3 linked regions of the Homo sapiens genome follow. The protein of the gene in region 3 purifies or fractionates together with the protein of the main gene of each other region. This does not show direct contact. Each region holds a gene or a part of one and is shown on either strand. Other genes may lie near its edges. The genes, in order: STRN, POP1 and EIF2S1.

Region 1 (3,653 bases), on a different chromosome or scaffold from region 3:
GATGGTCAACAGATTGTTTTGTCAGATTGGCCACCGAGGCAAGAAACGCCAAAGATCCAAGGACAATTTTATTTCTAATGGCCCAGAATTGAAACCTGGATGCTACACACATTAGCAAATCAAAAGTATAGCTGACATCAAGGAGATAGCAGGTGGGCAAAGGGGACTCTATCCAGATTATCTGAACTTTCAAACACCTTTCATTGACTGCATAGCAAAGGGTTTTGTTTGTTTTAAACTCTGCTTCAGTTATCAAGATTTTGGAGAAAAACTGTAGGTCTCCCTTTACCATTCAAAGAAAAGTAGATTTGAAATAAAGTTCAGGACTAAATAGGCACATCTCTTGATAAAGAAGTGCTGTCTGTCAACATTATTTCTCCCCCAAAAATTAGTAGGGCCATTCTTATTTGTCAGATTTTGAAAGTAAAATAAGAGAATTCAGTTTCCAGTTATGGTGCCCCACAACAATTCTTCTACTGAACGCAGCCAAAAATTCTGGACAAAATATTTTCACAATTTTCTTAAAAGCAACACAAAAATAGGAAGGAATTATCTGGCCAAAATAAAAGGGAAAATGGGAACCCAGTGAGGTAAAGGAACAAAAAGCCATTTTTGCCCTTAGGATATTGACCAATCACAACAAACAGCCTTGCAGGACTCAAGGAGCAAAAATCAAACACCCTACCCCTCCAGAGTGGACAGTCTAATAGGTGATATACCTCACATTTAGCTAGATCCCTAAAGGGCTTATGTCTTCAAAGCAAAGACAAAACAGAAGTATATTGGCCCTCAAATGTATTCACAACCAAAATTCACATCAGCTGGGTGGCCCAAACATCTTAAGTAATGCATTTACTTTAAAGTGATTCCAGGCCTGGCAGTGGCTCACGTCTGTAATTCCAGCACTTTGGGAGGCGGAGGCGGGCAGATCACTTGAGGCCAGGGGTTCAAGACAAGCCTGGCCAACATGGCAAAACCTCGTCTCTACTAAAAATACAAAAATTAGCCAGGCGTGGTGGTGCACACCTATAGTCCCAGCCACTCCGGAGGCTGAGGCACAAGAATCGCTGGAACCTGGAAGGCAGAGGTTGCAGTAAGCCAAGATCACACCACTGCACTCCAGCCTGGGTGACAGTAAGACCATCTCAAAAAATAAAAATAAAAAATAAAGTGGCCCCAGACTGGTAATAACTCTAGACATCTACCAGAAGGAAATGTAAAAAACAAAAAACAAACAAAAAAAAACCTTTCTGAAGAAGATACCTTTATTTGAGAGCTCAGATTAGTCTCATAGTTCTTCTTTTTGTCTTTTTTTTTTTTTTTTTTTTTTTTTTTTGAGGTGGAGTCTCTGTTGCCCAGGCTGGATTGCAGTGGTGCAATCTCGGCTCACTGCAACCTCTGCCTCCCAGGTTCAGGTGATTCTCCTGCCTCAGCCCCCCGAGTAGCTGGGATTACAGGCGCCCATCACGACGCCCAGCTAATTTTTTTTTTTTTTTTTTTTTTGAGACAGTCTCACTCTGTTGCCCAGGCTGGAGTACAGTGGCGCGATCTTGGCTCACTGCAAGCTCCGCCTCCTGGGTTCAAGTGATTCTCCTGCCTCAGCCTCCTGAGAAACTGGGATTACAAGCATGTGCCAACACACCTGGCTAATTTTTATATTTTTAGTAGAGACGGGGTTTCACCATGTTGGCCAAGCTGGTCTTGAACTCCGGACCTCAGGTGATCTGCCCGCCTCAGCCTCCCAAAGTGCTGGTATTACAAGCATGAGCCACCGTGCCTGTCTAGTCTCACAGTTTTTCAAGGACAGCAGGCGGCACACAAAGGTAAACTAAGGATACAAGGGAACACGTCGTCATGAACAAGAACCAGCAGAGACAACAGACCACACAAAGGCACCTCTAAGACCTCAGATAAAGGAAACGCAAAGACACTAACTAAAAAATAACTACTTACTATGTTTAAAGAATTAAAGATGACACTGAAAATACCTGCAGAGAACAGAACAATATTTTTTTAAGAAATGACCGAGCAGATTTGAAAAGAAACCAAAATGAACTTCAACAATAACCAAAACTAAAAATTCAGTGGATGGTTTTAACAAATCAGACTCAACTGAAGAGAAAATTAATGGAGTGGAAGATATGTCATTCACAGACTGGAAAATAAGTCAGAATAAATTATCGAGAATAAAGCATGGAGAGATAAAAAGATGGAAAATACAGAGCAGATAATGGAGAAGCCCTAAGATCATGTAATCAAAAACCCAAAAGGAGAAGAAAGGAAAATGCAATCGAGGACAAACCTAACAAGATAGCAACTGAGAAATCTGCAGAACTAATGAGAAGCCAATCCACAAATTCAAGGAGTCTAATGAAGTCCCAAACAAAATAAAAAGAAATATAGGCTGGGTGTGGTAGCTCACGCCTCTAATCCCAACACTTGGGAGGCTGAGGCGGGCGGATCACGAGGTCAGATAGAGACCATCCTAGCTGACACAGTGAAACCCCATCTCTACCAAAAATACAAAAAATTAGCAGGGCATGGTGGCGGGCGTCTGTAGTCCCAGCTACTCGGGAGGCTGAGGCAGGAGAATTGCTTGAACCCAGGAGGCGGAGGTTGCAGTGAGCCGAGATTGTGCCACTGCACTCCAGCCTGGGCGACACAGCTAGACTCCATCTCAAAAAAAGAAAAAGAAATCTATACTGTGACACATCATAATGAAACTACATAACACCAAAGACAGAGAAAATCTTAAATGCAACCAATAAAATAAGCTAGAAAGCAGTAAAACACAGTAAAATCTTTATGCCTGTTATCTAAAAAAAATAAATAAATAAGCATCAGTGTGGCTCTGCTTACCTCAGAAGGTTGTACAGTTTAAATGGTACAGTGTATCTGAAAGGGCTTTAAAGAAAACTGTAAAGAGTGCTGGCTGTAGCAGTACATATACTCAAATTGGAATGATACAGATGATTAGCCTGGCCCCTAGACAAAAAATATGAAAAAATAAAACTGTAAAGATATCTGGAGATGTAAGTGACAGCTTGTACAAAACCTATTTCATTCTTGGTCATTCAGCCTCCCTCTGAACCTCACTTTACCTAACTGAGCTGATTATTTCCAAAGTTCATTCCAGCTCAAAGATTACTCTGTCATTACATCTCAGTCAGAAGGAGGTGATTCAAATTATAATATTCTACTGCCTAAAAATAAAATGCTATCATCAGAAAGAACAATGGAAAAAGAAATTATATCCCAAATTCTATAAAAAGCCATCCATATAGGGAATACTAATAAAAGTGTTGAAATCACCAAACTTTTATAGATAATGTAAAAACAGAAAAAAACAACTAAAGCAGTGGTTCTCAATCCTTGCTGTATACTGGGGAGCTCAAAAAATACTAATGCTAGGGGTCCTCATTCCTAAGATTCTGATTTAATTGATCTGGGGTAGAGTCCAGGGAATTAGTATTCATTCCCTCTGATTATTCTAAGATTATAGCTAAGGTTGAGAAACACTGAACTGAAGAGACAAATAATAGGATACGTTTTAAAAGATTAAAGCCTCTATAACCTTTCTAAAATATAAAGATTATGAAATTATCAAGAATATGAGTAGAATGAAAAATGAACCTGCTGACAAAATTATACCA
Region 2 (3,653 bases), on a different chromosome or scaffold from region 3:
TCACAAAGCTAGTAGGTAGCACACAAGGTAATCATGTCAGGATGACATATAAAGGACCTTGGATATAACAGATACAGGTGAAATTTTCTCCTATAAACGGTGCAACATGAATTTCAAATCTAAGCTCCCTGCTATGGTCTGAATGCTTATGTCCCCCAAAATTCCAGTGTTGAAATCCTAACCCCCGAGGTGATGGTATTAGGAGGTGGGGCCTTTAGGAGGCGATTAGGTCATGAGGGTAGAGCCTTCATGAATGAGATTAGTATCCTTATAAAGGAGTGCTCACAGAGACCCTCGCTCCTTCCACCATGTGAGAACCAGTGAAAAGGTGCTGTATATGAACCAGAAGGCAGGCCCACACCAGTCACCAAACCTGCCCGCTCCTTCATCTTGGACTTTTCAGCCCTCAGAACTGTGAGAAATACATTTGTTATTTATAAGCTACCCAGTAAGATACAGGTTGTGTATCCCTCATCTGAAATAACTGGGACCAGAAGTGTATCAAATTCCAATTTTTTTGGATTTTGGAATATTCGTATATATATAAAATGAGATATCTTGAGGATAGAACACAAGTCTAAAGACAAAATTCAATTACACTTCTTTCGCCTTATCATACACAGCCTGAAGGTAATTTTATACAATATTTTTAATAATTTGTGCATGAAACTTTTTGCACATTGTATACTTGAACCATCAGAAAGCAAAGGTGCCACTATCTCAGCCACCCTGTGGACAATCTGTGGTTGGCTGGCATCAGCATCCTTCCTGACTCTGAATCTATATGCTACTGATAAGCAATCACTTTCTTACACTTACTCACATGTAAGTATTTAACAGTAAAAATTACATGTATTTTATTTGTCTTTGTGGGTGTGCTTACGTGGTGAAATCTGGGAGTGCTTGGAAATATTTATATCACAGCTGAAGGGGGCTGGGAACATCTTTTTTCCCATGGGAATGCTGAATAAACTGTGTGTTATATGCCTTCATTCTGACTGTGACCCATCACATGAGGTCGGATGTGCAATTTTCCACCTGTCATGTCATGTCGGCGCTCAAAAAGTTTTGGATTTTGGAGCATTTTAGACTTCAGATTTTTGGATTAGGAATGCTCAACCTGTATTTTGTTACAGCAGCCCAAACGACACTCCCTTAATACTATAATCCACATGATTGTGTACAGTCTTTTATCCTAACTCTCTGCCACACTCAAATTGAGAGCCACTATACTAAATAAATAACTAAAAGCAAAGTTCCAGGATGGATGTGGTGGCTCACACCTCTAATCCCAGAACTTTGAGAGGCCAAGGTGGGCAGATCACTTGAGTCCAGGAGTTTGAGACTAACTGGTCAACGTGGCAAAACCCTGTCTCTACCAAAAAAAAAAAAAAAAATTTGCTGGGCATAATGGCACATGCTTGTAGCCCCAGTTACTCGGGAAGCTGAGGTGGGAGGATCACCTGAGCCCAGGAGGTCAAGGTTGAAGTGAGCCACGATTGTGCCATTACCCTTCAGCATGGGTGACAGAGTGGGATCCTGTCTTAAAACTTTAAAAAGCAAAATTTCCAGCCAGGCACAGTAGCTCATGTCTGTAATCCCAGCACTTTGGGAGGCCAAGGTGGGTGGATTGCCTGAGCTCAGGAGTTCAAGACTAGCCTGGGCAACATGGTAAAACCCCGTCTCTACTAAATACAAAAAATTAGCTGGGTGTGGCAGCATGTGACTGTAGTCCCAGCTACTCGGGAGGCTGAGGCAGGATAATTGCTTGAACCCGGGAGGCAGAGGTTGCAGTGGGCCAAGATCGCACCACTGCACTCCAGCCCAGGCAACAGAGCAAGACTCCATCTCCAAAAAAAAGGCAACATTTCCATACAAGTGTCTGGGCATTATGACTATAAGACAACATTAAATATCTGTCTGTGGCCGGGTACAGTGGCTCACGCCTGTAATCCCAGCACTTTGGGAGGCCGAAGCAGGTGGATCACTTGAGGTTAGGAGTTTGACACCAGCATGGCCAATATGGTGAAACCCTGTCTCTACTAAAAATACAAAAATTAGCCAAGAGTGGCAGCACACGCCTGTAGTCTCAGCTACTCAGGAGGCTGAGGCAGGAGAATCGCTTGAACCCAGGAGGTGGAGGTTGCAGTGAGCCGAGATCGCACCATTGCACTCCAGCCTGGGTGACAGAGCAAGACTCTGCCTCAAAAAAAAAAAAAAAAAAAAAAAACTGTCTGTAAATTAAGGGAGAGATCAGTAGAGAATTTTATAGTGTTTCTGCTTATTTCAATTGTGGTGTTAATTATTAAGCCACTATAAATCTTAGAACATTGTGAGGTTTAAATGAGATAAAAAAAATGTGAAAGCCTTATCATATGGCATGGTAGGCATCAACTGTAGGATCTGAATCTAGACCTTATGAACTTGACTCTAAAATTTACTTAATCAGACCCAATGCAGTTTTTTAAAGCACTCCAAACAAGTCCTTGGACACTTGCTTTTGCTGTCTTCCCAAATTAGCACTTTCTACCGCTGCCCTAATGAACAACTGTGATCTTCCTATCACTTCATAAGGTTCTAAAATCAGCACACCAGTGAAATACAGATATGATGACTATACTGCACTTCTCTTAGGAAACACAGAAGTATAATAATCATTGATGTTAAGGTAGAAATAAAATATACCAGCTCTAAAATATGCATAGCCAATTTTCATTATTTATAGTAGTCATGTTTCATACGTCCCTGAATTACGTCAATGAATTAGTGAATACTGAACCATTCCTCCTAGTGGGGATACATACATATCTTCATCTCACATAGATTATAATCTTTTTTTTTTTCCTTTTTTTTGGGACAGTCTCACTGTCACCCAGGCTGGAGTGCAGTGGCACGATCTTGGCTCACTGCAACCTCCACCTCCCGGTTCAAGCAATTCTCCTGCCTCAGCCTCCCAAGTGGCAGGGACTACAGGCACACACCACCATGTCTGGCTAATTTTTGTATTTCTAGTAGAGACGGAGTTTCGCCATGTTGGCCACTCTGGTCTCGAACTCCTGACTTCAGGTGATCCGCCCGCCTCAGCCTCTGAAAGTGCTGGGATTACAGGTGTGAGCCACCGCCCCTGGCCATATTATAATCTTAAATCCAAAAAACAACTCCTCCTGGTAGAGTTTATTTCCTTTATTTTACAAAAGAGAAAATGAAGTCTAGAAATGCTAAGTGACCTGCATGAGGCTGCCCCAGGGCTGAGATTCAAACCCCAGGAGAGCTGGAGCTTCCTGCACTGTACTGCCCTGCCCTTATACTGCCTCCATCCTCTGCCCATTTCTGCATGACAGCTGGGAAGCTCGGCTGGGAACGTAAACACAGGGAAACTCAAATTTTTCCTGCTCTATGTATGTCCACAAATGATAGCCAAAGCTTCATGGGTATTAATATTGGGGTTACAAATAAGCTTTGGCAAGTAGGCAAACTTGCAAATAGGAAACTCAAAAATAATAAGGGTCTACTGTATCTGTTTTTAATTCAGCTCATTTACTATTTAGATAATGACTATCAAAAGAGCTGACAAAAGCAATTTGATCAAAATGGGAGTGGAGAGAGCATCATGTGTATCTTTTTTTTTTTTTTTGAGACACAGTCTCACTCTG
Region 3 (3,653 bases):
GCAGAGAGAATGTGGAACAGCTGAGGCTGGAGACCATGAATATGCAGTGGACCAACCTGCAAGACTGATTTTTCCTAGTAGCACCCAGCAGTCTACAAGTACAGAGAAGGCAGGAACATTGATCCAAGGCTGGATGGATGGAAGGAAAAACAAGGCAAAAGCTCACAATAATGGCAACAAAGTCGTTAAAATGATGTATCATGGTGTGCCTATGTTGGATAAGAGAGAAAAGGCAGGAAATGGCGAAAAGACAGGGAGAAAAAAGGTTTGGAATCAGATCCTAACATACAGAATTAAGATGACAAATAATAGGACCAACTGGGAGCTAGATGAATAGGAGGCAGGGGCAAAAGAACAGAAAGTGTGAATTAAAGATTTTAGTGGCAGAGCAAATCCCGGTGATAGTAAGGCCCAGGCTAAGGCTACATGGAAGACTGGCTAAAGTGGTGTGGGCTGAAAGTCAAAGGAGAGTCAAAAGAGGTAGAGAAAACAAGAGGTTATAGTTTTTGGTGAGACATGCTCTTTAGTCCCATAGCCACTTAGGACAATAACTAGGAAAGGAAAATGTGTGAGATAAACCATATGGTTTATGAATCTACATAACTATGATACATAAAACTACACAGACTTGACCATATAGGATTGGCCCATTTACTGGCCAATACAAAATATTTTAATCTAAATTTGGCAAGTATTTTATACATGGATGCTATGCTGTTAAATATCAGGCCAAGAGTTGTGATATCAAGGTAGAAGGAGAGTCAAGAAGGTATTCTTACGAGACTGCATGCTTAAATGCATCATAGGCACCATATCCAGGTCTCTTGTACTTGTCATCAAAGACCCAGGCAGTCCTCTGGAATAGGCTTTCCAGCTGCTCATCCTTGGTGTATTCTAACACCTCAGCAACATGACGAAGAATGCTATAAACCTAGAAATAAAATGAAAAGCTCAACAATTCAAAGATAAGAGATTTATAAAAAATGTTTTTACATTTTAGTAAATAACATAATTTGGCTACAATAATTCCTTAACAATAAAAGATCTCCATAGGGAAATACTCACTTTAAGTGGGTATAAAAAGTAGAGATAGTATACAATTTAGGGTCCTAAGACCTGGATCAAGTCTTGACAGTAACACAGTATCTCTGAACTTGTTTCCTCCTCTGGAAAAAGAAGAAACTAGCATCTCTCCTTACTACAGAGTGCTCGCATAGATCAAATATATAGAAACCACACACTATAAATGGAAAACGGCTATACAAATACAAGTTGTTATTATTACTCCCTGAGGAGAGAATCACGATAAAAAAAATTTTTTTTCTGTCATCTTACCCACCTGCCAAACTTTTTCTTACCTCCTAAAATTAACAGGGTGTAGACAAAAAGTATTAAGGTCTTCATCATAGTTACACATAAAAATTGAGTGAGAAAAGGTACTGACACTGAATAACTCTTCCATTTTAACATCTCAATAAGATCTATTAACACACTCATTTTAACAATATCCTAAGGAGACAAAAAAATATGAAATTTTCCCAGAAAAGTGCTTCTCAAAAGTTAGTAGGACCTGAGAGTCTGTATTTCTAAAAAAACAGGTGATGTCAATGCTGCTAGTTTAGAGACTACATTCTAAGTGGTAAGGTCCTAGAGTTTATTAAGAAGATATTTTACTGACAGTGTTTTCAAATGTGTAAACCACACTGCATAACTGTAAATACATCAGTAAAACAAAGGAAATGATTTGGGTAACTGATGGCTTTTAGACCTTTATTTTCTCTCTTACTGGGATTAAGCAAGATTTTTTAAAATCTCTTCATTGAAACTTTTTTTTTTTTTTGATATTTTATCTTGAGGACAGAAACACTCATGGCAGAAAAGAACAGACACCAGAGAAGGGCAAAGAAAACAGAAGCAATACAAACAGTACCACTAAGAACTGAGGATAGGCTGGGCACACTGGCTTACGCCTGTAATCTCAAACATTCCGGGAGGCAGAGGCGAGAGGATCGCTTGAGCCCAGGAGGAGGTGGTTGCAGTAAGTTGAGATTGCGCCACTACACTCCAGTCTGGGAAAGACTTTGTGACACACACACACACACACACACACACACACACACACACACACACACACACAGAACTGAGGATGTAGAGGATGAAGGATAACTTAAACAGGACCTGAGAAAAGAGAAATACTGACAGAAGAAATTAAATGGCTATCTTTGCTTTGCTGCTGCTTACTGTGGATGACAAGCAGGAAGTAATAGCAAAAATAAGAATGCAAAAAGAAATAATCCTAACACGCTAGTGGAGGGGGAAAAAAACCAAAACTAGTAACAGGCCTCTGCCTTGCTTTCCTGGATTCACAGACATTTTATAAACCCCTGTTCATTCTTAACATATAACAGCTGGTTGTCTCCGTTACCCTCATCCCAGAACAGGGTTGAAAATCAAGAACTGTATTTTGGCCAAGTGCATTGGCTCACTTCTGTAATCCCAGCACTTTGGAGGGCTGAGGCTCAAGGATCACTTGAAGCTCAGGGTCTGAGACCAACCTGGACAAAATAGAAAGACCTCATTTCTATTTAAACAAACAAAAAAACCCCGTATTTTATGAGGCATTCCAACTGTAAACAAGTTAAAGCAGTTGAAGTCACCCACAGTTAATTTAACCTAAAACGGCTTCAAAACACTTCTAGTACTAATTTGAGAATATTAGATCATAAGCAATACTTTAAGGTAGTAGCAGTATGAAATTAAGATTTCAAATTATTTATTAAACACACAGATAGTGGACTAATTTGACTCAAAGATCAACTTACAGTTTTGGATTTTGTGAATTTGTCTTCACATTTGATTGCTTCCTCTGGAGAAACTCTTCTTTTTGACAAATCAATATATCCTGTACAAAAAAATTGTGAAAAAATCATCTCTGTCCAGATGCCACTGTACTATTGTAACCAGCTTTGAAGACCAAATTAAGTGTTTGATTGGCATACTTATAATTATTTCCTACTAAAATCCTATCAACAAAATACTGCATAAGTATTACAAGGCTGAGTATCCCTCATCAGAAATGCTTGGGACCAAAAGTGTTTTGGATTTCAGATTTTGGAATATTTGCAATGTATTTACTAGTTAGAGCATCCCGAATCTGAAAATCCAAAATCTGAAATGCTCCAATGAACATTTCCTTTGAGTGTCATGTTGGTGCTCAAAAGTTTCAGATTTTGGAGCATTTTGGATTTGGGGATAAGGGATACTCAATCTGTACAAGATGAGAGATTCTGAATTGTTTTCAGAAATAAATTTTTATTATCAGGTAATTATATATATTCCATTACCTTACTGGAGAGAACTAATAATTTTCAATTATCCAAATGAAAGGTAGTCAAATGCCTATCTTTCCCCTATTTCTTCCTTTTCCTTCTCCAGAATAGGAAAATTCACTAAGATGTTCATTTAGTTTAAGGAAAGAGGCTATCGTCACAGAAGACACACACACACACACACACACACACACACACTGAACAAATTAAAACTATCTAATCTACTGTATGACTACCATATACAAGTAACTATGTTAGGTGCTTAAACATCTTCTTGAACCCTCACAACAATCCTGCATGGTAGATTATCACTCTCTTTCCCAC

The links.
Region 1: the proteins of EIF2S1 (region 3) and STRN fractionate together in Homo sapiens (co-fractionation; one large-scale study listed by BioGRID). This does not show direct contact.
Region 2: the proteins of EIF2S1 (region 3) and POP1 fractionate together in Homo sapiens (co-fractionation; one large-scale study listed by BioGRID). This does not show direct contact.

The regions. Positions count from the first base shown.
Region 1 is NC_000002.12:36,956,437-36,960,089, forward strand, and holds part of STRN (striatin), read right to left. Parts: intron 1-3,653. UniProt on the Homo sapiens protein: Calmodulin-binding scaffolding protein which is the center of the striatin-interacting phosphatase and kinase (STRIPAK) complexes.
Region 2 is NC_000008.11:98,123,757-98,127,409, reverse strand, and holds part of POP1 (ribonucleases P/MRP protein subunit POP1), read right to left. Parts: intron 1-3,653. UniProt on the Homo sapiens protein: Component of ribonuclease P, a ribonucleoprotein complex that generates mature tRNA molecules by cleaving their 5'-ends. Also a component of the MRP ribonuclease complex, which cleaves pre-rRNA sequences.
Region 3 is NC_000014.9:67,373,717-67,377,369, reverse strand, and holds part of EIF2S1 (eukaryotic translation initiation factor 2 subunit 1), read right to left. Parts: intron 2,903-3,653; coding exon 2,823-2,902; intron 932-2,822; coding exon 780-931; intron 1-779. UniProt on the Homo sapiens protein: Member of the eIF2 complex that functions in the early steps of protein synthesis by forming a ternary complex with GTP and initiator tRNA. This complex binds to a 40S ribosomal subunit, followed by mRNA binding to form a 43S pre-initiation complex (43S PIC).